Regions from separate parts of the Homo sapiens genome. Here regions 1, 3, 4, 5 and 6 are each linked to region 2. Evidence: fine-mapped expression QTL. A gene starts in region 2. Each other region holds a variant in brackets. All regions are shown on one strand. Distances are between the middles of the regions. Region 1 overlaps FAM149A (family with sequence similarity 149 member A). Region 2 holds the start of FAM149A (family with sequence similarity 149 member A). Region 3 overlaps FAM149A (family with sequence similarity 149 member A). Region 4 has its middle 13 kb from the start of FLJ38576. Region 5 overlaps FAM149A (family with sequence similarity 149 member A). Region 6 overlaps CYP4V2 (cytochrome P450 family 4 subfamily V member 2).

Evidence for each region. PIP is the estimated chance that this variant, and not a neighbour inherited with it, causes the effect.
Region 1: its variant is fine-mapped to the expression of FAM149A in skeletal muscle (GTEx, PIP 0.90).
Region 3: its variant is fine-mapped to the expression of FAM149A in blood mononuclear cells (TOPMed, PIP above 0.99).
Region 4: its variant is fine-mapped to the expression of FAM149A in prostate (GTEx, PIP 0.97).
Region 5: its variant is fine-mapped to the expression of FAM149A in whole blood (TOPMed, PIP above 0.99).
Region 6: its variant is fine-mapped to the expression of FAM149A in whole blood (TOPMed, PIP 0.97).

What each region holds. Positions count from the first base shown.
Region 1 is chr4:186,142,905-186,146,994 of GRCh38, forward strand. The region is part of intron 1 of FAM149A (family with sequence similarity 149 member A); the gene reads left to right. Among named protein-coding and RNA genes, the nearest start is that of FAM149A, 40 kb to the left of the region's middle. RefSeq lists enhancers at 848-1,348, 1,349-1,849. The variant G/C (reference allele first, on the strand shown) is at 2,140.
Region 2 is chr4:186,102,786-186,106,859 of GRCh38, forward strand. FAM149A (family with sequence similarity 149 member A) reads left to right here and starts at 1,919. Exons shown (of 14, transcript NM_001395294.1): 1 at 1,919-2,857. The coding sequence starts at 2,292. RefSeq lists a silencer at 1,839-1,898.
Region 3 is chr4:186,148,488-186,152,577 of GRCh38, forward strand. It overlaps FAM149A (family with sequence similarity 149 member A), which reads left to right. Exons shown (of 14, transcript NM_001395294.1): 2 at 686-796; 3 at 1,079-1,217; 4 at 3,416-3,558. Among named protein-coding and RNA genes, the nearest start is that of FLJ38576, 41 kb to the right of the region's middle. RefSeq lists an enhancer at 233-1,432 and a silencer at 1,451-1,646. The variant C/G (reference allele first, on the strand shown) is at 1,649.
Region 4 is chr4:186,176,013-186,180,102 of GRCh38, forward strand. No RefSeq gene overlaps it. Among named protein-coding and RNA genes, the nearest start is that of FLJ38576, 13 kb to the right of the region's middle. The variant G/A (reference allele first, on the strand shown) is at 2,443.
Region 5 is chr4:186,136,401-186,140,490 of GRCh38, forward strand. All of the region lies in intron 1 of FAM149A (family with sequence similarity 149 member A), which reads left to right. Among named protein-coding and RNA genes, the nearest start is that of FAM149A, 34 kb to the left of the region's middle. The variant T/G (reference allele first, on the strand shown) is at 2,009.
Region 6 is chr4:186,202,492-186,206,581 of GRCh38, forward strand. CYP4V2 (cytochrome P450 family 4 subfamily V member 2) reads left to right here. Exons shown (of 11, transcript NM_207352.4): 8 at 2,709-2,811. Among named protein-coding and RNA genes, the nearest start is that of CYP4V2, 13 kb to the left of the region's middle. The variant C/T (reference allele first, on the strand shown) is at 1,879.

The DNA of each region.
Region 1 (4,090 bases), 40 kb after region 2:
GGGTGGTTTGTTATGGGGTAATAGATATCTGGGACACATTCACACATATACATCCTAGCTGTGTGACCTCGAACATGTTACTTAAGGTCTCTGACATCAGTATTTTTATCAACAAAATTGTAATAATAGTGTCTACCTACTATGGGTGTTAAATATATGTAAGAATATATGTAAAATAATATATATAAAAGTAAAAGCAGCTAGCATATGTTTGGATCTTAAATGACTTTGTGTTCGATTTTTACTTTTTTTTTTTTTTTTTTTTTTTTTGAGACAAGAGTCTTGCTGTCTTGCCCAGGCTGGTCTTGAACTCCTGGGCTCTAGTGATCCTCCCATCTTGGCCTCTCAAAACACTGCGGTTACAGGTGGGAGCCATCACACCAGACTCCTTTCTTTTGTTTCCCTGGCATGCCCATCCTCCCACCCCTGGCAATATAAATAATATCAGCAAGTCTGTGTGGGCTTAAGATACCATAGTTTTCCTGATAGATATGTATACACATACACACACATCACACATATACACATATACATGTATCAGGATTTAAAATCTCATTAATTTTATAATTTATAACCACTTACCACTTTTATAAAAGTGGGGAGGATTCCAGTGTTCTTAGTTCAACAATGGATTACTGTTTTGTTTGTGTTTGTTTTTTTGAGACAGAGTCTCCCTCTGTCGCCCAGCCTGGAGTGGGTGGGGCGATCTCCGCCTCCCAGGTTGAAGTGATTCTCATGCCTCAGCCTCCTGAGTAGCTGGAATTACAGGCACGCACCACCACACCCAGCTAATTTTTGTATTTTTAGTAGAGACTGGGGTTTCACCATGTTGGCCAGGCTGGTCTTGAACTCCTGATCTCAAGTGATCCGCCCACCTCAGCCTTCCAAAGTGCTGGGATTACAGGCGTGAGCCACCCTGGCTGGACTACTGTTTTTGTTATTGGTAGTGATTTCTTGTCACCGTGCTAGGGTGGTGCATCAGAAATAAACTGGGCTTTTTAGTAAAAACTCGGAAATACATGGTTTACCTCTGTAAATACGGGATACTTGGCAGGAGAAATTGTACCTGTTGAAACTTAGATGGCCTCAGCTCTCAAAAGAGACTGGCTACGGCAGGACGGGGATGAGTGTTGTACCGGCACCCAGTGCACTAACTGTCATTACTAAAATCCCTGTCGTGGGAAAGGCATGCCTCGTGCAGTGCCCACCCTCTGAGACTCAAAAATGTAGTTCACCTCCGCGACCTCACCCCTTCTTCCCTTAGCATGTGAAAATGACGGCTTGGCAGTTTCACCAGCTCACAGGAGAGCGTCCAGCTGCTCTGCTCCTGGTATAATCCTGGGCCTCCAAAACTGAAACGAGCACATGGTAACGCAAGCGGCAGGCATGCTCGGGGTGTGCAGGAGATGCACCGGCTTGTGTGAGCCGGTAGGGCAGGACGGGCGTGGAAGGGTCCACGTCTTTAGTATGCATGCTTAGATCTAGCGTTCCTGTTGATGGAGTAATGGTTCTCGCATTGACCAGATCCGGGGCTTCATTTTTTAAACCTCATTCGTCCACTCCCCACCCCAGCCTGGTGTGCGCACCCTTTGATGGGGCGGGGATAGGCGAGATGGTCCTGTGGTTCTCTGCCTTCTTCTGGTGAATTAAAATCCGATTTGGAAGAGAGAAGGGCAGCCAGCACCAGTATGCACAGCCCCCGGCCCCAGAGACCCGGGAAGGAGTAGGGAGGCCGGGCCGTGCGCGGAGGAGTGGCCGCTGGGTTGGAAACCCGGCCCGGCAGGGAGCGGGGAAGGCGCGCTTTCCCGGAGGTCGGCGCGGGGCCGGGGCCGGGGCCGGGGCCCGGAGCGGGGATGGGCGGGCGCAGCCGGGATTAGCTGGCGGGCGAGGGCGCAGCGCAGGGAGGAGGAGGGGAGGCGGCGCCGGCGCGGGCGGGGCGGAGGATCTGGAGAGGGAAGGGGCGTGCGAGCCCCGCGGACCCCGGGCGCGCCCGGGCCGCCTGAGCTGGGCCAGCCGCGCGGCGGGCGCGGGCGCGGGCGCGGGCGCGGGCGCGGGCGGGTGGGGAGCCCCAGCCCCGGGGCCGCGGGGGCGCGTGACCGGCTGTCTGCGTGGGGCCCGCGCGCGGTGCCTCTGCCTGAC[G/C]GTGCCCGAGCCTAGCGCGGAGCCTGGCGCGGGGGCTGCGAGCACAGGCCCGGGGCTGATCGTAATCGGGTGAGTCTCATCCGGCAGCAGGGCTCGCCTTCTGGCCGCTCTGCAGGCGATGTGCGCGGTGTTCTCCGCCCGCGGGCCGGCTGCGTCTGGCCCGGGCTTCCCTGCAGGCACTCGGGAAGCGTCAGGCCGGCCCCGGGCATGGCTCACGCGGGGAAGCGTTCGCCGCCAAAGGGACTCCTTCGTCACTGCGGTCGCTCCTGGGACTTGCTGGTGTTGGGTCAGGGCGGTGTGAGTGTTCCGTGCTGAGGAGCGGCTTCCCATGGCCACCCTGGAGTGCCCCTGTGTGTCCCCCCATCCAGAAAACCAGCCTGCATTTTAACCCGTTCAGAGTACAGTGCTTATGTCAGACAGTCCTGTCAACTAGGAATAGAAAATTTTGAAAGCTGCTGTCACTGACATTAGAATTTCTACAAAGCAGTGTGGCAGAGGTTTGTGGGCTGTCAAGAAGCAACCTAAAACAGTAACTCTGGATGATGATTTTCCTGACAGCTGGAATGGAGTCATGGAGATTGGAACTCACCCTTAACCTCCATGCGCCAACAAATGAGTGCAGTCTAGTTTAGTGACTGCACTTCAGTCCACCCTACGAAGACCTGTCCCCAAATCAACAGCCTTGCTCTATTTAAACAGTATGGACAGGAACTAGTATAGAACTTGCATGTCTATGTTTAGAAGCTTCATGGACATGCCACCATATTCAAGTTTTAAAATACCTGTGGGATGCATCCTGTAAGTTGTGTACACTTTCTTAGACTGTGTAGGATACAGAACTAGTCCATAGTTTATAGGGGATTAAAGAGGTTCAACATTATGCATGAGGGACCAGTAACCAATCCTTGGTTAGAGAACAGAGAAACCAAAGAACCAAAACAAGATGTGAAAGAGAAAAAAAAAAAGAAAAAGACAAGAAAGGGATTTTGTAGGCTCTGCTGTTAATTCATGATGTTAGTAACTTGTGCCACTGGAGAGACAGGCAGGTCAGTGGCCTGGTTCCTCGAAGAAACTCTGTCCCTATCTTCTTTGTGCTCTTGGGCAATCATTGAGTTACGGACTTAAATTCCTGTTCACCTCGTTTTTTTGTGAATTGTGTGGTCAAGTTTGTATGTTATTACACTGAACTCTGAAGCTCAAGAAATTGCTTAAAAGGAGATACAGAGGGGAAGGTCAGAGAGGAAAAAAGAGGGAGAAATGGCATGGAGTAGGGGAGTTTTAAGGCACCTAATTCGTAATAATTGGTGTGACTGTTACCCAACTTCCCATTTCCCCCTGCCCTGCATCCCAAGACCTCCTGGGCTCAGCTCTGCGTCCAAGACAGTGGGAAGCCTGGTCCTGGAAAGGATGTGGTGTGATGTGAAGAGAGATGAGTTCCTCCGTTTTGTAAATAATTTTCTCCTTAATTTGAAAAGAGCTTCCACCCTTTCCCCTGAAAAAGAGTGAATTTCCTAGAGGAATAAATTATTCATTGAAACAAACTCGCATGCGTCCCATTTTGAATTTGGCTTCAAAGTTGCACAAAAGCAGGAGGAGGAGCTAGAAGCAGGATAGACCGTCTTGAGCAGAGCAGATGCTCCGTTTGGCGGTGAAAACCATTTGGGGGAATATCAGCTGCCCAAAGAAGAGCTGTGACTTTTTAACGAGTAAAACGTTATCCAATAGTGTCTTGAATCTGGGGAATATTTTCATGTCAGGTCACGATGTAATCCTATGTTTCAGGCATAAACATTCAGAGTAATTCTGTAGTGAAAATGAGTTCCGCATTTGAGTTGCTAATTTCGTCTTCGCCGTTTGAGTCTTTCAACCGAGGGCATCTTTTGTGTGACGAGTGTTATTTCAGGTGCTTAGCTTAAAAGATGAATAAGGTGTCAAGGTCACAACAAAAAGT
Region 2 (4,074 bases):
CTCACTGAAAGCACATACTCTAGAAATAACTTCTATTTGCATTGAAAGTGACCTGATATATTAAGGATTTAATTACTCCATGAATCAGAATAAGATCCTTGTAAGATGAACAAAATCTGTGGGAAACTGCTTTGCAGTCCTGAATGAGTGCTACATGAAAACAGTCCAGTGTTCGGAGGGAACGTCCAGACTTCTGAGGCTACCTGGTGAGTGCTGCAGAAGGGGAACAAGGGAGCACGAGAAAAGTTCATGGTTCAACAGCAGCCTGTTCCTGGTGTCTCTGCGTTGTGACGGAGTTGGCACTGCTTCCCTGGTTTGCCCCCAACCCTCTCCCTCTTGTTACCATTGCTGCTCTCAGAGGTGTCTGTTCTTAATTCCCTTTTTCTCTCATTTTGATTCTTCGCTGTGTGCTGGTGCTTCACACGCTGACGACTGCGTGCTCTCGCCTCTCCGAACATCCAAGGGCCTTTAAAATCTCACCCTAGTCACCCATGTCTCTTACTTCCCTTAGGCACACAAATGCTCTGCTGTCCCCAAGCGAATGTTGACCACGATGGCTGCCATCACCTGTGCTTGTCTTCCAGGGCACTCACGGGACACTCAGCATATGACGTGAAGCAGATTATTCCATGCTCTGGGAAGAGAACCGCTCTTTCTTTGCATGTCTGTGCTTAATGCAATCTTGAAGCAGACAAGTGCCCAGTACATGTTGGTGGCAGTTAGATGTAGAAAAGGGATCATGACAGAAGACTTGTTAACTGCCTCCAAATAACGCAAAACTTAGCATTACCTGGAAGTTTACCGTGGCTCAGACTCCAGTTTGATAACTTACAAAAGATTCAAGTATATAAGCATGAATGTCAGTTTATTCACTGCCAGACTTAATTCATCTCTTTTCCCTACCCCACATCAGGAAATGTATCTCCTGAGATCCTCTCCTGAATATTAATGGACAAACTCCATCAATATCTCATTACTATTTTTTTGACACAGGGTCTCACTCTACTGCCCAGGCTGGAATGCAGTGGTGCGATCACGGCTCACTCCAGGCCCAAGCGATCACCTCAGCCTCCCGAGTACCTGGGACTACAGGCATGCGCCACCAGGCCCGGCATTTTTTTTTTTTTTAAATATTTGTAGAGATGGGGTCTCCCTATGTTGTTGCCCAGGCTGGCCTGGAACTCCTGGGCTCAAGCCATCCTCCCACCTCCCAATCCCGGTGCTGGGATTACAGGTATGAGCCACCGAGCCTGGCTGCAGTATCTTATTTTTTAACTCTGTTCAACACTGACCCCACACCCCTTTAGATGCTCGCACCTATACGCTCTACCTTTCACACATATTTTTCAGATTAAGCAAAATACAATTTATTCCACTGAATAGAAAACGTTGCCTTCCATATCTGTCTTTGAATTTGTAGTCGTTCCGATTATAATTTGAGTTCTCAAACATTTGAATTACACAGTCTCTTGGTTCACTCCGACAGGTGTTTAAACAGGTGTGCGTAGGTCTTTCTACTTCAGCTCTCAGAGCCGGTCTTGTTTGCAGGTTAGTGGGTGGCGCACCTCGCGGTTGCTCCCACCCCACCCTTAGTAACAGGGTTTGAGTAGGACCCTGGGGTGGGGGAGTGGATGCTGCTGTTTCAAGCTCGTTCGCCCAAATACATCTTTCTACCCACCTTCCCTATCGTCAGAGAGGTGGCCTGACCCCAGCACGTGCAAGCTTGTCAGGCTGGGTAAGTTCCAGAACCTTCTGGAGCCAGGATTCTCTTTCCCAGCCCTGGGCCCTGAGCTCGGCGGATGGGATCTGCGAGGCTCGGGGCGCAGGGGAAATGGGGGCGTGTTCCTTTAAGGCGGAACCAGGCGGGGAGTGGGACGTCCCCCGCGGGCACAGCCCGAGCCGCACCTGGGGCCCAATTAGCCTGGAGCGCGGCCGGGTGTGTTGAACGTAGCAACCGCGGGCGGCGGGCGGCGGGCGGCGGGCGTCTGGGGCGGGCGGCGGCCGCGCTTCCCGGGGCTCCTGGCCCTTCGGCCCTCGGGGGTCTCACGGCGCTGGGACGAGGCGGGGCTGCTCTCCGCAGCCGGGGCGCTCGGCGGACGGACCCGGGCCGGGGAAGGGCGACCCCAGCGGCGCGGAGCTGAGCGTCCTCGGGGAGGAGAGGGAGCCAGGGGCCTCCGGGGCTCCGGGTGCGGGGACCTCAGGCTCCTCGCCCCGGCCCGGGCCGCCTCGGCCGGATCTCCGCGGTCTGAACTCTCGGGCGGCGGCGAGGACGGCGTGTCCACTGTCGAGGCATGAAGGCTGCTGTGCTGGACCTTGGGTCTCTCTTGGCCAAACTCTTCGAGACCTCGACGGCGCCCCCCGCAGGCCCCTCCTCCAGACCCTCGGGAGGTGCTGCCGCTGCAGGGTCGGGGGGCTCCAGGGCGGGCACCCCGTTGGGTACCGCCCCGACCCTCCTCCGCGCCCTGGCTCCGGACTCCCCCTCCGCCTCGCGGCGGTCGCCCGCCCCGCTGCTCTCCTCCCCCTACTCCCGGGGCTCCGCCGCCAGCCGCGCCGCGGGAGCAGTGGGGACCCTGCTCTCTTGGCCCAGTAGCCCTAGAGCGGGTAAAGCCCCGCCCCAGCCCCCCACTCCCTCCGGCGGGGGCTGCTCCCCTGCTCGCCTGGTGGTCCCAGCGCGGCCGCCCTCGGGCCCCGGCGGGGTCTGGGCCGCGCTCCCCAGGAACCCGCTCCAGCCTGGCCCCGGAGAGCGAGAGCTCGGCGCCTGCGTGGCCCCCGGGGCTGGCCCCAGAACCCTGTTCCTTACGCTGCCTGACATCGGCGAGGAGGGGGCCTCGGACGGCGACTCCGGGGATGGCGAAGCGTGAGTAGCAGCGTGGTCCGGGCGCGTGTACCTTTTGCCGGGACCCCCGACCCCTCCGCCTGCCGCACTCACCTTCGCAGGTGCACTTCAGGAAATGAAATATTTGTAGTAACTTTCATAACCCCCTGGGCACCCTCCTTGCACGTTTCCTGGGTTTTTACTCCTTGGCTTTGCGGGCTTTCAGACATAAGCTGTGACATGCTTTGTCCAGCTTTCTCAGAGTGAATCCTAAGGGGCCTTGAAGGAAGGGACAGAATTTTGTTTCTCTTCTACCAGAAGCATTGCTACTTAGAGTGTTTGTTTGGTTTTCTTAAGGACTTTTTGAAGTCCCTTTCTTTGTCTCAGAATATAGCAGGTGTGCAGGGAAACCGAATACACACGTCTGCAGCAAGTGTTTTAAGAAGTGGTGAGACCTGGTGCTTTCCTAATGTCTAAGGACCAGTCCCTAGTCTTATCCTAAGTGGGATGGGTCTCCTTTGTGTGACATCTAGTTAATTTACATATGCATGACATCATCTGACACAAATGGAGTTGTAATGGCCAGGACACGTCTGATTATTACCCTAGAGCTCCTGAGAGCTTTCCACAGTGCCCTGAGTCACTGCAGAAACGTTGACTTCATGGGAACATTTTCACTGGGAATCGGAGGCCGATTCCCTCAACACACACACACCCACACAACACCCCTTTCACTTCCAAGAGTCGTGATAAAAACATTGCTCTTTTAAAATGTGTTTTAGAACTAGGATGAATTTTAATTTTTAGAGTGGAGCATATCGTTAGCTATTCTTGAGTGGGTAAATTTTCATCCTGAATGCTGCAAAGAAATAGTGAAATGGTCAAAGACAGATGAGCCAATTCACAGACTGAGGTTTCTGCATTGTAATCTAGTGAGGCCATTCCCTACTCCCTCCAAAAAATCCTGAGTAATTTTTGCATTCATACTGATCCTGACTCACTCACAATTTAAATAATTACAGTTTCACAAAATTGAATGATATTCATGTCAATATGAAAACAAGCGGCCGGGCACGGTGGCTCACGCCTGTAATCCCAGCACTTTGGGAGGCCGAGGCGGGCGGATCATGAGGTCAGGAGATCGAGACCATCCTGGCTAACACGATGAAACCCCGTCTCTACTAAAAATACAAAAAATTAGCCGGGCGTGGTGGTACGTGCCTGTAGTCCCAGCTACTCGGAAGGCTGAGGCAAGAGGA
Region 3 (4,090 bases), 46 kb after region 2:
GACTAGAGGAAGTAAATGTTTTAAGCGGTTCATTGAAAGGACATTTCAATGATTAACAGGAACTGTGCTACACCAGTTAGGCTTAATAGTTTATTTAACATCTAGATATTTCTTCTGTTTTAGTTCTTCATTAAATTTTAATATCTTCTAACTCTTGAAAACTCAGTATACCCACAAACAGCAATGCTAGATTAAAGCAAGTTAGGTGTCTGTGTGGCTTCTGAGTCTAAAGAATTTGATGTTTCTTAATTAATATGGGATTAATGATTTTTTTACTGGAGGAGTGGTTGGGTTTTGTAAGTAAGTCCCTTGTCCCTGGTCAAGGGACAACTGGGACCTGAAATCCCTGAAATACTGTGAACTGTTTGGGGCAACTTTTCCTTCTCTGGCTGAGTCACAAAAAGTTGATGTTGTCTTCAGTTCACATAAAGGTACATATAGGTTAATGGCAACCTTGATTTTAAGAAAAAGAAAAATGATGACATCCTAAGTCTCAGTTTCATCAGGATGGGGTGTGTGTGTGTGTGTGTGTGTGTGTGTGTGTGCGCTCATGCACAGGTGGGTTTGGAGGGATGTGGCAGAACGAGAGGAGCAACTTTGTATAAAAGAGAAATTTTAAAAGTCTTAATGAATAAAACTATATTATTACATTAGGGAGACTCGTCATGTTTTATTTTATTTCCAGAAGAGGACTGTCAGAAGGACGTAGAAGGCACGGTTTTACTGTGAGGAGCAAAGATTCTTTACCTACGCATTTTACAAGAAATGTGCAGAAAGCCATTGATAAATATACCTGGTAAGAATTCACCTTGCTTCAGATTACAAAATCACAAAATGCCCGTAACAAATGTGGGAAGGAAGTTAGTGACTGGCCATGAATTTCTAAAAGTAAGATGCAGTTTTATTTTTAACCTAGTGTAAACATCACACTGTAAAAATATTTCAAAATTAGTATACTGTGAAATTAATAAATATATTTAATGAAAGAAAGAGGAAGCAGGCTCAGAAAAGTGAAGCCACTTAGCCATCCAAGCCCTTCCAGCAAATGTGATTTCTTTGCTCATGTTCATTCCTGCAGCAAATCCTTGTCATCCTTTTCCTCCAGCGGAAGCCATACACCCACGGGAGCCCACACCTCTTGGTCTGGGTCGGCCACACAGAGCTCTACCACCGGCTCATCCACGGAGAGGGGCTCCGTTTATTCCTGGAGAGATGACGTATGTCTCAGAATATTTTGGATAATCTTGTAATTACAGTTTATAGTGAAGAGTTGCTTCCTTATATTCAAAATTATTTTTACCAATTATAAAAGCATGACCTATTGCATACATACATGTACATACATGTAAAAGCATGTACATGTTACATGTGAAAATAATAGATCACGAACCGTGGAGGAAAACAGAACTCCCTCGTGACCTTCTGGCCCCGTCTTAGCTGCCCGCAGTTTTCTTGTTTCCACCCTGCAGCCGGCTCTCCGGGTGTGTGCTCCTTGTGACTTCTTGGATGGTATCCATGGCCGGAAATTCAGGACTTGAATAAGAAAGAAATGCTGGAAAAGTAAAAGCTGTGGCAGCCACTGTGATTAGAGAACTCCCCGCCAGTATTCCCAGTCGGATATTTCACCTTCACCCCCTACCGCTGGGGG[C/G]GCTGTTGCCTCTGAACTGCTTTTGTCTGTGTGAGCCTGGGATTCTGGCTGGGCGAGCTCTGCCTCCACTGCTCCAGCTTGCTCAGGAGCTCACTGGCTCCAGTCTCCTCCCTCCCCCTCCCTCCAAGGGTCTCCGTGGATCCCAGGACACAGCCCTCCTTTTTAAGGCCCACCTGGCTGCAGCACCTTGGGTGTTCTGTTTTACCTCGTTTATGCTGGGTGTTTTGTTGTTGTTGTTGTTGTTTTTTGCTTGCTTGCTTTCTCTCTCTCTCTGTCTCTTTTTTTTTTTTTTTTTTTTTTTTGAGACGGAGTCTCGCTCTGTCGCCCAGGCTGGAGTGCAGGGGCGCGATCTCGGCTCACTGCAAGCTCCGCCTCCCGGGTTCACGCCATTCTCCTGCCTCAGCCTCCCGAGTAGCTGGGACCACAGGCGCCCACCACCACGCCCGGCTAATTTTTTGTATTTTTAATAGAGACGGGGTTTCACCGTGTTAGCCAGGATGGTCTCGATCTCCTGACCTCGTGATCCGCCCGTCTCGGCCTCCCAAAGTGCTGGGATTACAGGCGTGAGCCACCGCGTCCGGCCTTTTCTCTCTTTTTTTTTTTTAAGACAGAGTCTTGCTCTGTCACTCAAGCTGAGGTGCAGTGGTGCCATGTCGGCTCACTGCAACCTCCGCCTACCAGGTTCAAGCAATACTCCTGTCTCAGCCTCCCGAGTAGCTGGGATTACAAGTGTGCACCGCCATGCCCAGTTAATTTTTGTATTTTTAGTAGAGACGGTGTTTCACCATGTTGGCCAGGCTGGTTTCGAACTCCTGACGTTGTGATCCGCCTGCCTGGGCCTCCCATGGCATGAGCCACTGCGCCCAGCCTCTTTGCTTTCTTTAAAAGTGGTTCCCCACTCCCACTGCACATGGGAATCCGCTTCTGTCCGCAGCTGTGCAGCTGTGATTCTCAGGGGAGCCGGCAGGGCAGGTGCACCGAGGGGGTCTGAAAGGGACTCAGCTCAGCACTGCTAGGAGGACCTTTCACGCACGCAGCTCCCTTACTTAGGGGCAGCTGCCTCCTTCCTCTCCCTTACGCCCACTCACCACCATCCCTCAAGCCCGCCTTCCTTGGTAGAAGGCTGAGCACCACTGCTTTACTCTGTCCAAATTCTAGGATTCTTTTAGTACAACGTTTAATGGAATTACCAGGGAAATTCGTATAACTTCCATTAATACTCAGGCCTCACCCTAATAACCACACTTCTTAGGATAACTAAGGATTTTTTTTTCCAGTTCATTGATTTAAGGAGATTAATGGCCTTTTCTACAAAAGTAATTTTCTTTTCTGTGGTATCACCAGAAGAAAAAAAAATCTTGTATTTTGCAGGTGTGCTTAGGTGTGTCAGGCACAGCTCTGTGAGGAGCTGCCTGTGTTTGCAGACATACAGATGTGGACGTGTCTGTGTGTCTACGCTGATGTCTGTGGCAGTATGAACACGTCCATCTATACCTCTATCTATGCAAATTCTTGAGTCTCATAACTTCCGTGGCAGAAGTTTTCTCTATTTAACAGTAAAAGAATCCGAGGCTCAGAATGAGATGGCATTTCTCAGAAAGGTAACAGCTAGAGCACAGGTGTGTCTGACTGCAAAGCCACCATCTTTTTACCAAGTGATGCACCCTCCTACATAGTGGGTGACAGTAAATGTATAAGTAGCGTTGATCCAGAAGCCCGCAGTTCTGTAACTTGCAGTGTTGTAACCAAGTGTGCATTTCTGTTTAGGAATTTGACGAAGCCAGTTCACAGTCAGTGCAGCGGTTACTCTGGGAGGTGGAGGAAATGTTATTTGAAGGGAAAGTGAACCCTCAGACCCAGAGTCTGCTGGCCGAATGCGGGGAGTGGACAAGAAGATCCCTCCATTTGAGGTGGGACCTTGGTGGTGGAAGTTCTCTGGGGTGGGTTTTCCAAGCACCCACCCCTGACCTGCCTCGATACATTCAGTACATTTGGTGTGAAAGTGCCTGCCCAGTCAGAATATGGATGCAGAGCGCAGTCCTTCACTGAGAGATCACTTTCCTCTTACGGCGTCTGAGGAAATACTGAGACATTCCAGTACTCAAGCGCCTTTTAATTTGTGAGAAGCAAATTCAGGCCATCCTGAGAAGGGCATGACACATATACGAATGCAAGAATGGTGGAGGCCACCTCTTACCTTCACATTCACTGTGTGTGAGCAGCACATGTCTGTCTTCATCACAGAACACAGCGAGGGTGGGCAGAGATGATTTGCTGAACGGCTGGATAGATGGGTCTTCCCATCTCACCCATTCCTTATGTAGGGAGGAGCATGTGTTACTTTTCATATCAAAGATGGAGAATATGGATTGGGTATGAAGGCAAGCTTTTCTTTTCTTTTTGCTTTTTTTTTTTTTTTTTTTTTTTGAGATGGAGTCTTGC
Region 4 (4,090 bases), 73 kb after region 2:
TTTTGGACTATGGGAAATATGAAATAAGAAGCCACTGGAGCAGTTGAGTTTTGGGGATAGAATGATATAATCGACAAGAGATGATCCTGTTTCAGTCAGATGATAGTGGTAAGGCTGATGAGAATCCCAGGACTTTGCATGTGTTTTGAAATTTGAGCCAAAAGATGTGCTGTTGGATGAGAGGTGGAGTGTGTCTACCAAAAGAATCGAGAATGCCTCCAGGCTTTTGGCTTCACACTTGGAAGGATGGTGTTGACACTCACTGAAATTGGAAAGACTGCAAGGGGAACACGTTTGGCAGCATGAGGGGCAAGTTATGTGTGAGATGCCAATTAGATGCCTAAGTGGAGATATTGAGATATTTGGATATCCACACTTGGGTGTGGAGGTGAGGTATAGACTGGATGTATAAATTTGGGGATTGTCAGCACGTAGATGGTATTTAAGAACTGAAATGGATGAGGCAACCAAGAAAATGAGTGTAGAGAAATGGAGGAAAAAGAAGTACTGAGCCTTGTGCCTTTTAACATCTAAAGGCCTGGGATGTGAAGGAAAACCAGCAAAGCAGACTGAGAAAGAATGGCTGGTGAAGGGAAATAAGAGTCAGGAGAATGTGGCGTCCTCAAAGTATGTGTGTGTTTGTGCGGGGGAAGTGTTTCAAGGAAGTGATAGGGACTCAAGTATGTTGAATGCTGTTGATGAGTCAATTACGATGAGGTCTGAGAATCAGACTAAAGGTCTAGCCACATGGAAGTTACTGGTGGCCTTGACAAGATCTGCTAGGTGAATGGACAAGGCGAAAGTAGGCTTGCAGTGGGTTTGGGAGAAAAGAAGAAGAGAGAAATCCAAGACAGTAGTCATGGGCAAGTCTTCCAGGGAATTTTTCTGTACAGGGGAGTAGAGTATGTGTGTGTGTGTGTGTGTGTGTGTGTGTGTGTGCATGCACGTGTGTTTCCTAGTAAGGTTCATCTTGATGAATGTCATTATTCAGTATAAAAATGTTGATCCAAAAAGGAAGATAGCTCTAGTGTTCTCTGGAGGACATGCAGAGTGTATTCCCACTGGAAAATTAAAGAAAAAGCTGACAGAGCTGAGTGAATAGTAAGTTATAACTCAGAAGCAACATTCAGAGAAGGCTACACCTTGTGAAGGATGTCTTCAGAGTTCACAAAAAGAACATTGTGGGGGTGAAAGTTTTAGCTTAGAAGGCAAAAGATTTCAAAAATATACAGAATCAAAATGATGTTAAAAATAAACATGGAGGCATTCCACTACTGTTTATGAAAGAATAGTTCATGAGCAAACTGACCTACTGAGAACAACTATAAAAGCTATAAATGGACAAGAAACAGCTCTTTGGAGGCACGCGTGGACACCCACATCCACACCCACCCAGCCCCCCAAGACAAAGCAGCACAACTTCAGGAAACAAATTGGGAGACAACAGGAATAATACATTGAGATGAACCCCATATTTGCTACTGTTTTCTTTCCCTGTATCAATATATTTTAGATTAGTAATGGGGCATAGAGGCCAAGAAAAAGGGATACCCTCAAAATTTGTGACAAGCTCACTAGGCTGCCAAAAGGAATGATGTTGGGAAATGTCTCAGACTTTGAATTGATAATCTTGAAGGACTACACTCTAGGAGTAAGGGCAAGCTTAATACAGACAAGTCCTCAAAACACTAGAAGCAGAACCTAGAATCAATGAAACCTCTGTTTAGATCCAGGTTATATGCCTGTACTTTATATGACCACCAGAAAAAGTATCCTCTTTAAAGAAATATAGCATCACCTAGAATTTCTATTATTTTTATATACAATGTACAGCATTCAATCTAAAATTAAGAGACAGCCCAGGATATAGGGCCAAGTGACTGAAAGCCAAGAGAGAAAACAAAATTATAATGGACCCACACGTGATTAAAATAGTAGCACTATCAGGTACAAGCTAAGAAACAATTTGATTTGCACATTCAAAAATATATTGAAAAACAATTTCAAGAGAGAACTGTAATCTGAAAAATAATCAAACTGATATCCTAGAAATGAATAATACAATGACTCAATAATTCACTAGCTGTGTTGAACTGCAGATTACACATAGCAGACAAGAGGCTTAGTAAACTGGAAGGCAGGTCAATACACAGTATTCACTTTGAACAAGCATAAAAAATAGATATTCCTTAAAAATTGTGAGGCCATGTGAAAAAATCTCATATCCGTGTAATGATAGTCATAGAGGAGAAAGAGAATAGAACAATGCAGTATTGAACAGATACCATGAAAGAATCTTCCAAAAATAGATAGAAGACATCGATGCAGTCATTTAAGAAGCTATAAGAAACACAAGATAGAAAGCAAAACATACTCAGGTCCATCACAAACTGCTAGAAACCCCAAATCAAAAAGAACCAAACAGCAGTCAGAGGGAGGGGG[G/A]AAAGACTCATTATCTTCAAAGAAGCAACAATAAGACTAATATTTGACTTTTCAACACAAGTGATGGAAGCTGAAAGACAATATAAAAAGCATCTTTAAAGTGCTGAAAAAAATAATTGCCAACCCAGAATTTTATACGTAGTAAACATATACCTCAAAAATGAGGGCAAAAGAGCAGTATTTTCAGATAAACCAAAATTGGGAATTTATCACCGGCAAATCTGTACTAAAGGAAATACAAACGAGAGCTCTTCACAGAGTAGGAAAATTATCCCAGAAGGAAGTACAATGATAAAAGAAGAAGTAATAAAGATCAGAATGTATACATACGTGGGAAAATAGAAAAGAATACTTACTGTATAAAATAATGAGTAATACAGAATTCAGTATATATTTGGGATTAAAATATTATAGAAATAGCTTAAAATTGGGAAGGGTTTATTTGCTGTTAAAGTGTTATAGATTCATCATTGTCCAGGATTACTGTTCTAAGGTAGAGTTTTATAAAGCAGTGCGTGTGATATAGCGAGATGAAGGCACAAAATACTATCAGGAATGAAAATAGGCATACCACTGCTGATTCTATAGATGTGAAAAAAGATAAGCATTATACTATGAATAACTTGATTTGGTAATTTAGATGAAAATTAAAACTTTGAAAAAATCACATCACTCAAGAAGAAATAGAAAATTTGAAAAGGGTTATGTCTATTATAAGACTTAAATGTATTATTAAAAGCCTTCTCACAAAGACAACTCCAAGTCCTGCTGACTTCATTGGTTAATCCTTCCAAATATTTAAGGAAAAACTAATACCACTAGTAGCAATATCAAAAAGCTCTTCAGGCCTGGGCATAGTGGCTCATGCCTATAATCCCAGCACTTTGGGAGGCTGAAGCAGGAGGATTGCTTGAGCCCAGAGGCTCGAGGTTACAGTGAGTTATGATCACGCCACTGCACTCCAGCCTGGGTAACAGAGTGAGACTTTGTCTCTCTAAAAAACTAACAAAAAAGTTATTCAAGATGATTGTCATTTTGTAAGGCTACCACAACCCTGATACAAAACCTAACAAGGACATTACAAAAAAAAAAAGTAAATTACAATAAAGTAACTGAGAATTATAAAAAAAAAAAAAAAAGCGAATTATAGGCCAATATCATCCCTGAACTCCCAAGCAAAATCAAATCAGTAATATATGAAATAGATAATACGTACCATCCAAATTAAATTTATTTCAGAAATGCAAGTTTGATGTACCATGTGAAAATCATTCAGTGCAACAAATGATGTAAGGAAACAAGCATGGGATCTTCTCGAAAGATGAAGAAAATGTCTTTATAAAAATTCTTAGTCAACCAGGAAGATAAGAATATCACTGTTATCTCTTCATGAGTATCTAGGGGAAAAAAACAACTGCAAACTGCATACTTAGTGGTAATTTTATTCTGATTTTACTTACTGAAGAAGCTATACTTCCTGAGATCAGATAATACGAAGTGTCAGCTACCGCCACTGTTATTCATGATACAGAATATATTTTCCACCCCAGCAGGGCAAGATTAAATTATTAAAGGGTCTTAAGATTTAGGAAGAAAGAAACAATTTGGTTTTTCACAGAAAACATGATTGTGTACATAGAAAATCCAA
Region 5 (4,090 bases), 34 kb after region 2:
TGAAATTTCTGTTTCTCTGGTTCAAAGTAGTATAATATGGACAATTTCATATGATTCTGCCTAATAATTACTCTCCGTGATAAATTTTAGCACTTACTTTAAAAAGTTGGGTTTCAGAACTTAGGTATTTCATTTTGAATAATGTACTAATTCTATATTTTTCTATAATTTTCTATAAGCTTGTGGACCTTATTGATTACCTAGGACTTTCTATGCTTTTTATACTCTTCATATTAAAAGTCTAAGTATTTTTCATCCTTTTTTGGATACAACATTTATAGCAATTTCAAAATGTCCTGATAATCTGTGCCATGTATAGGAGCTTTAGCGTCTCTGTATGATTTGTAGGGAGCTGTGGGAGTGTGCCCTGCAGGGCTGCAGGTGGGGTGCTCAACAAGCCAGGCTGCCCACAGCCTAAGAAGGTGGCTCTGCCTTTCCGTCCACCTGTCTGTGCCCGAGTTTTCTCACTGGCAGAATGGCATTAACAGCAGTGCCCCCTTCGAAGAATGATTGTGAAGCTCAAATACACTGATTGATCTCTCTCTCTCTCTCTCTCTCTCTCTTTCTCTCTCTCTTTCTCTCTCTCTCTCTCTCTCTCTCTCTCTCTCTCTCTCTCTCTAAGTGCTTAAAGCAGGGCCTGGTGTGTGGTACATATTCAGGAAATGTTAGTGGATACTATGGTAGAACATATTTGTTGTGTTTAAAATAGACCAATAATGAAAGGAACTTTAACAGAAATCAGCAAATTGGATTTGAGATGAATCTTTGAAAGCTAAACTTTTAAAGCTAGACTGGACTGATCTGGATAAAGCTGTGTACCCTTGGGAATTTACTGGATGTTGCTGACCCTCTTTTTTTTTTTTCTATATAAAAGAGTAGCCACCTTTCAGGTGGCTGAAGGTTTTGTTCATGTGGTGGTGTGAGGTTTACGAGTAAGGTACATTGGTCTCTGGCTCTAAGTGCTGGTCAGAGCGAAAGCATACCCTGTCCCTCATGCACATTCATATCATGTGCATGGTATGATATGTGCATGGTACGCACTTTCTGTCGGCTGTGCGTACCACCTACTGTTCACTGAAATGCTGACTTCTGATTGAGACAGGATTCCCTATCTATTCTGGAATGAAAATTCGGCAAATCCTAAATCTTGCAAAAAAGAAACCATAAAGTATTAAAATCTGGGCAAGGATTTTTTTTTTTATAGTGATGAAAGAGGGGAAATGTTGACATCTGGTGGCTTTCTGGCAATATTGCATGCCACCATTTCAATATTACATGCAGCCTTTCAATCCCAATCTAGAGCTATATCTTGGTTTACACAGGCTATTCCTAGAACATGCTCATAAAAGAAAAATTCTGTTATCATTTAATATCATATTTATTTATTGCAATTTCCTGGACTCATTTAAAACAATGTACTTATAAATTTCACCACTTAGGTAATTTTTAAATATTAAATAATATATTCTATATTTTTCTATAATTTTATATAAGCTATGGACTTCATAGTTTACCTAGCACTTTCCAAGATTTTTATACTCTTCCCATTAAAATAATAAAACATGATATTGTTTTATTAGTCTTCTATGAAGGAAGTTACCAACTTGTAAAATATATTTAAATGTATAGAGGAGGTTAATGCAAGCATTTTTAAAACAGACTTTTTATTTTAGAGCTAGATTTACAGAAAAGCAGCTCCCTATTATTCTGGTACATGTGTCACAACTAATGAACCAGTATCAATCCGTTACCATTAACTAAACTCCACATTTATTCTGATTTCACCAGAGTACTATTCAGGGTTTTTCAGAGAAGCAGATCAGACAGGATGAGTTAGTGAGTGAGTGTGTGTGTGTGTGTGTTTGCATGTGTGAAGAGGGAGAGAGATTTTTTAAAAATAGGCTCACGTGATTGTGGAGGCTTGGTAAGTCCAAAACCTGCAGAGGTGACAGATTATTTTGGGGGTTACAATTATATTTTAGCAAATAGGTGAATTTGCAAATAGTGA[T/G]CCAGAGAATTGCAGAGATTGGATGAGGTCCACCCCCATGATGGAGGGTCATCTGCTTCACGCAGGGTCCCCTAAACTGTATTAACCGTCACCACCAGTTTTCCCCAGTGCCCTTCCTCTCCTCCAGGGTCCACTTGACATTACATGGAGTTGTCACGTCTCCTCAGTGTCCTCTGATCCGAGACAGTTTCTCAGACTTTCTTGTTTTGATGATCACGACAGTTTAGGGGAGTACTGGTCATGTGTTTTGTAGAAGGCCGCTCCGCTGGGGTTCGCCTTGTGTTTTTATCATGGTGAGACTGGGGTTATGGGTTTGGGGGGGAAGGCCACAGAAGGGAAGTGCCTTTCTCATTGCCTCATTGCAAGGGTGCGTGTCAACATGACACATCACGGATGGTGCCAGCCTTGACCACCTGGCTCCGGGAGTGCTTGTCAGGCTGCTCCCCTGTAAAGTCACCCCCTGCTTCCATACTGCACTCTTGGAGTCAAGCTTCCATACTGCACTCTTGGAGAAGAAGGTATGATGCCCGCCTCCTGGAAGGGGAGACACACACCACTGGGGTAGAGTTCTTCTGTGGGAAATGTGCCTCTTCTCCCCATTTATTTATTTATTTGTTTATTTCTATCAATATGGGCTCATAGAAATGTATTTTGTACTTTAGTTATAATCCGATAGCACATGATGTATTTTGTTACTCAGGTTGTTCTAGCTTTAGCCATTTGGGGCTCTTTCAGGATGGCTCCTGTGACATGCTCTCATTCTTCTGTTGTTTTGGTTTTTGTTTTTTGAGCACTTTCCTACAGTCTGGCAGTACAAGATGCTCCAGGTACATTTTATATTGCCCTGCCTCAGCCCCCAAATCGGCCACTCCTCCATGGAGCCCTGGTCCCTCTATTGGAGAATAGTATTTGGTGTGGTCTGAATGTTTGTATCCCCCAAAATTCATAGGTTGAAATCTCTCTCCAATGAAATGGTACTAAAGGTGGGGCCTTTAGGAGGCGATTAGGTCATGATTGCAAAGCCCTCGTGAGTGGGATTCATGCCTTTATGAAGGAGGCCCTGGGGGCTTCTTCACCCTTTTGGCCATGTGAAGACACAGCTGGAAGGCACCATCTAGGAAGCATGGAGCCGGCACCAGACACTGAATCTGCTACCACCTTGATCTTGGACTTCCCAGCCTTCAGACCTGTGGGAGATAGGTAATGGCAAAAACTGCAGTTACTTTTGCATCCACCTAATACGTTTCTGTTGTTTATAAGTCACCCAGTCTATGGTATTTTGTCATAGCAGCCCAGATGGACTAGGACAGTGTTAGGAACTAAGATCTAGGCACTGGAGGTGCTCATTGCTACTGGAGACAGCTCTATGGTATAGAGAGATGACATAGTTGTATGTATATGTTTGTATTTGCAAAGCAAGGCCACAGTTCTGATATGCACAAGTTTCAGTTTATATGATACCCATGTAAAGCCAGGACTGCTCGTACTGGATAAATGTAAAAAACTGTATGTAACTTTTGTGTATTATATTGCATAATATTAAAATGAACTGGTTTAATACTCCACCTAACAAAAAAAACCACTCTCAATGCTTTAAATGCTGAAAAAAGGAATAATTTACAATTTATTATGTATCTATATGCAGTTTCCAAAATTTGTCTCTAATTCACACAACTCTACAAGGAAGACAGTAATATTAGCCTTGTTTTAGCTAATTTCTGCTCACAGCATTAAGTTATCAGCTCAGGATTGCATGGCTAGGGCAAGACAGAGCCAGCACGTGAAATCAGGTCAATTTTTAGAGGAGTTGCTTATAATTTTTGGAATAACTTTATATCTTATATTACTAATTAATTTTCAGAGGGTGATCACATAATCACATATACCACTTTTTATTTTTATTTTTTGAGACAGTGTCTTGCTTCGTCACCCAGGCTGGAGTACTGCAGCCTCCATCTCCGGGGCTCTAAGTGATCCTCCCACTTCAGTCTCCCAATTAGCTGTGACTACAGATCCATGTGAACACACCTAGCTTTTTTTTTTTTTTTTTTTTTTTTGTAGAGACAACGTCTCATTATGTTG
Region 6 (4,090 bases), 100 kb after region 2:
TGGCCCATAAGTATGCGGCACATACCGGGTGTTATTATTGCATGTCGGAGTAGAGAGATCTCACATCTTCACCTTGCCCATGTACTACACACACACACGCATACACTCATGTAAACCCATGCACACACATGCACACACTTACACACACACATATGCTCATGCACATACACATGCACAGACACATGTATATACCAACATACACACATTCACATATACACACATACACAAACACATGCACACACCTACATACACTCATGCACATACATGCACACACAAACATATGTATATCCACATGCGCACACACGTGCATACACTCACACACAAATATACACACACACCCAGATACTCATGCACATACACACACATGCACACATATACCCACATGCACACATGCATGCATACACATGCATGCACACATATACCCACATGCACACATGCATGCATACACATACATGCACACACCACCCCCCACAGAGGCACACATTCATGTACATTTATGCAATCATACAAAAACACATGTACACACCTACATACACACATGCGCATATACACATACATAGATGCACATATATACACACATGCACACATAAATGCACACAGCTATGTACACTCGTGTACATAAGCACAAAGGCACACACAAATACATGTACATATCCACGTACACACATTCATATATGTGCACAACCCCATACACATATGTACACACATGTGCACACACACATCCATCTCCTACCAGGAACCTCTCAATCTCACGTAAACAATCAGAACCAGACTAATGATTTTTCTTCCAACTCTAACATTCCTTGACATTCTAATTGTTTTCTTCTTTGCATTGAAAGGGAGGCAGCATACCAGGTGTGAGTGTGATACTGTGGCCTCCTCCACAGGTCGGTGCAGGCTGTGAGTGACACTGTGGCCTCCTCCACAGGCCGGTGCAGGCTGTGAGTGTGATACTGTGGCCTCCTCCACAGGCTGGTGCAGGCTGCAACTGCCCAGGTTCCAGCTGTGAGCTAAAAGTGGGCGTCCTCCCCTGCTCCACCAGTGTGCCTCGGTGCTTTACGTTTGCCTTATCATGCTTTCTGCAGTTGGCAGATGAAATGAAATCGGAAGTTCAGCAGACTCCTCTTATGCATTTGGATCAGGCTTCCGCTCATAAATTCAAGGAAAGCTATTAAAATTGTTTAGCCAGAATACTTCCTTCCGTACTTAGACAACTGAGCACAACGGGCCGGAGCTCATCTGGAGTTCCGAGTAGGTTTTGTAACTGCAAGTGCTAGGAAAATGCAGAGGCGCCGACCTCAGGACCTGTAGGCTGTGTCTTTTAAGAATTGCAGAATAAGCCCCGAGCAATTCATTTTAGGAGCTGTTTTATAAAACAAGTACTTTGAAGATTTCTGCACAGAGAATGAAATATTACAAAAATCACTTGTGCCACATAGGAAAAATGGAAAAGTGAGATCTTTTATAGAGGAAATAATTTGTTTTTTCTTTTTGTCCTCAAAGTTTCAGAGAGGTAGATTACTGTTATTGACTTTCCAGATACATTTTTTTTTTTTCTGAAGAACTCACCACTTTTGCATATGGAAATGTGCTAGGGAGATGAGGAGGTAGATAAGAAGCCAGGTCCTGAAATATCAAATGGGTGGGAAAGAAGGTTGCCCGAGACATTACACTAGCTTAAGAGGTGGAGGCGGAGACGTTACGCTACCGCTAAGAGGTGGAGGTGGAGACGTTACGCTGGCGTAAGAGGTGGCGGTGGAGACGCTACGCTGGCGTAAGACGCGGCGGTGGAGACGCTACGCTGGCGTAAGAGGCGGCGGTGGAGACGCTACGCTGGCGTAAGAGGCGGCGGTGGAGGCGCTACGCTGGCGTAAGAGG[C/T]GGCGGTGGAGGCGCTACGCTGGCGTAAGAGGTGGCGGTGGAGACGTTTCGCTGGCGTAAGAGGTGGAGGTGGAGACGTTACGCTGGCGTAAGAGGTGGAGGTGGAGCGTCCTTACTGCACAGGGTGTGGAGGGAATGGCGTGGGCTCAGCTGGCTTTGTCATCGGACACGCCGCAGGCTCAGTTTCTGCCTCTGTTTCCCACTAAGCTGTTTAGCACAGAAGAAGTTATTTAACCACATCTTTGGCCTCAGTTTTTAATCTCTGAATTGTAAAGAACAGTAATGAGTCTTTCATGGAGTTTTTGTGCAGATTAATTCAGTTTCTGCAAAGTGCTTAGTATTTTGCCTAAAACTCAGCAAGTATGAAATGAGGTTGTTGTCAATTTTTACTGCAGAGGATATGACTTAGAACCACACCTCTACCCCCTGGTGCCCGTCATCAACAGGTGAGGCCCACCTGACAGATGGGGGAAGGCAGAGAAGTACAGCCCTGACAAGCAGGCTCGTGAAAATCAGACTTTGTTCTGTTCACAAAGGCGCAGCTCACCTCGTGCCCATGGAACGCCGCCTTTATTAACACAGCACAGGCACGTCCCACCAGCGTGCAACACCGTGCGGCGTGGAACTGCCATCTCTAGGCATGAACCTCCGCTTTGCAGGCTTGTTTCCTTGTTTGTCACCGAGGCAAGGTGCTGCACAGAATTCATTTCTTATGTTTGCAGTCACAGTGCAGTCATCAAATCCAGAGACAATTCAAAAGAGGTTTCTGGTCACTCCTAATCATCGCAGCATAACTCTGCTTTTTAAGCTATTGTTTTCTGCATTTGTAGGGGCACGATACAACTGCAGCTGCAATAAACTGGTCCTTATACCTGTTGGGTTCTAACCCAGAAGTCCAGAAAAAAGTGGATCATGAATTGGATGACGTGTTTGGTATGTTTGGCCCCTTCACTGGTTATATTGTGGTACTAAGTCTGCTGCAGAGATGTCACTGTGTTGTAAACACAGTGTAATGAGCAGGAAGGCTCCCCCACGGGATCCTTTCCAGTACCATCCCCTTTGCAAGGCCTCGTCCATTCACTCACAGGCCTCTGCCAGTCGCCTGGCAAGTGACTGTACTAGGCCGGATGCTGGGGTGCACTGATGCGTGCTGCTGTCCTCAAGGGTCTCACTGCTACCCAGGCGAAACAGAGGCTTTGAGTCATGGGTCGTGCATTTGAGTGAAGAAGGTGCTATTTGGGAGAAAGGAGGAGCTGGTGAAACTATTTAGAAAGGTACAGGAAAGCTGTTTCGCAGATTGCCTCTCACCACAAAGGAGAGAAAATGTGGATTAAAAAGGTGGATTAAGCTTCGAGGAGATACATTTCTATTACACAGCAAGCAGCCCGGAGGAAAAGTCCTGCCAGTAGGATGTCCAGGGTCCCAGACTTGCCCTTTTGCTCCCAGCCATCCCTACCATCTTGGCTTTTGTCCTCATGATTGACGTTCCAAGCATCACGTTCATCTTCAAGGCAGGAAGACAGGGGAGGTGGGGGTACCGGGTGTGTTGGTGTCCTGTGGCTGCTGCTGTGACAAATCCACAGACAGGGAGGTTCACAGCAGCGACGTCTGTTCCCTCACAGTTCTGGACACCCGAGTCAAAGATCAGTGTCATTGAGCCCACATCACCATGTGGGCAGGGCTGTGGCCCACTGGGAAAATATCCACTCCTTGTCTCTTCAGCTTCCGGTGGCTGCCAGCATTTCTTGGCTGACAGCCGCATCACTGCTATCTCTGCCAGTCTCTGCATCGCCTTCTCTTTTCTCTGGGTGTGAGTGTGTGCACGCACGTGCATGCATGTGTGGTGTGTGTGTGTGTGCATGTGTGTGCTTGTGTGTCTTTCACAAGCATACTTGTGACATACTTGTGATGGCGTTCAGGGCTCACCTGGATAATCTACCCACTGTAAGATCTTTAATTTAATCAAATCTGCCAAGAGTTCTCTTCTTCCAAATAGGGTAACATTTACAGATTGCAGGGATTAAGACCTGATATTTTGGGGCCCATTATCAGTCTGCCACAAAGAGGCTTCCATAGATTTTATCCTTGTTAAAAATCACGTGTCATATGGCCCCCAATAGCTGCAAGGTGAAAAGGAATAAAGTTGAGTTAGCCAAGCAACAAGTGGTATCTGATGCAGTTTTACAGTGAGAAGCAGGGAAAGAAAACTAAA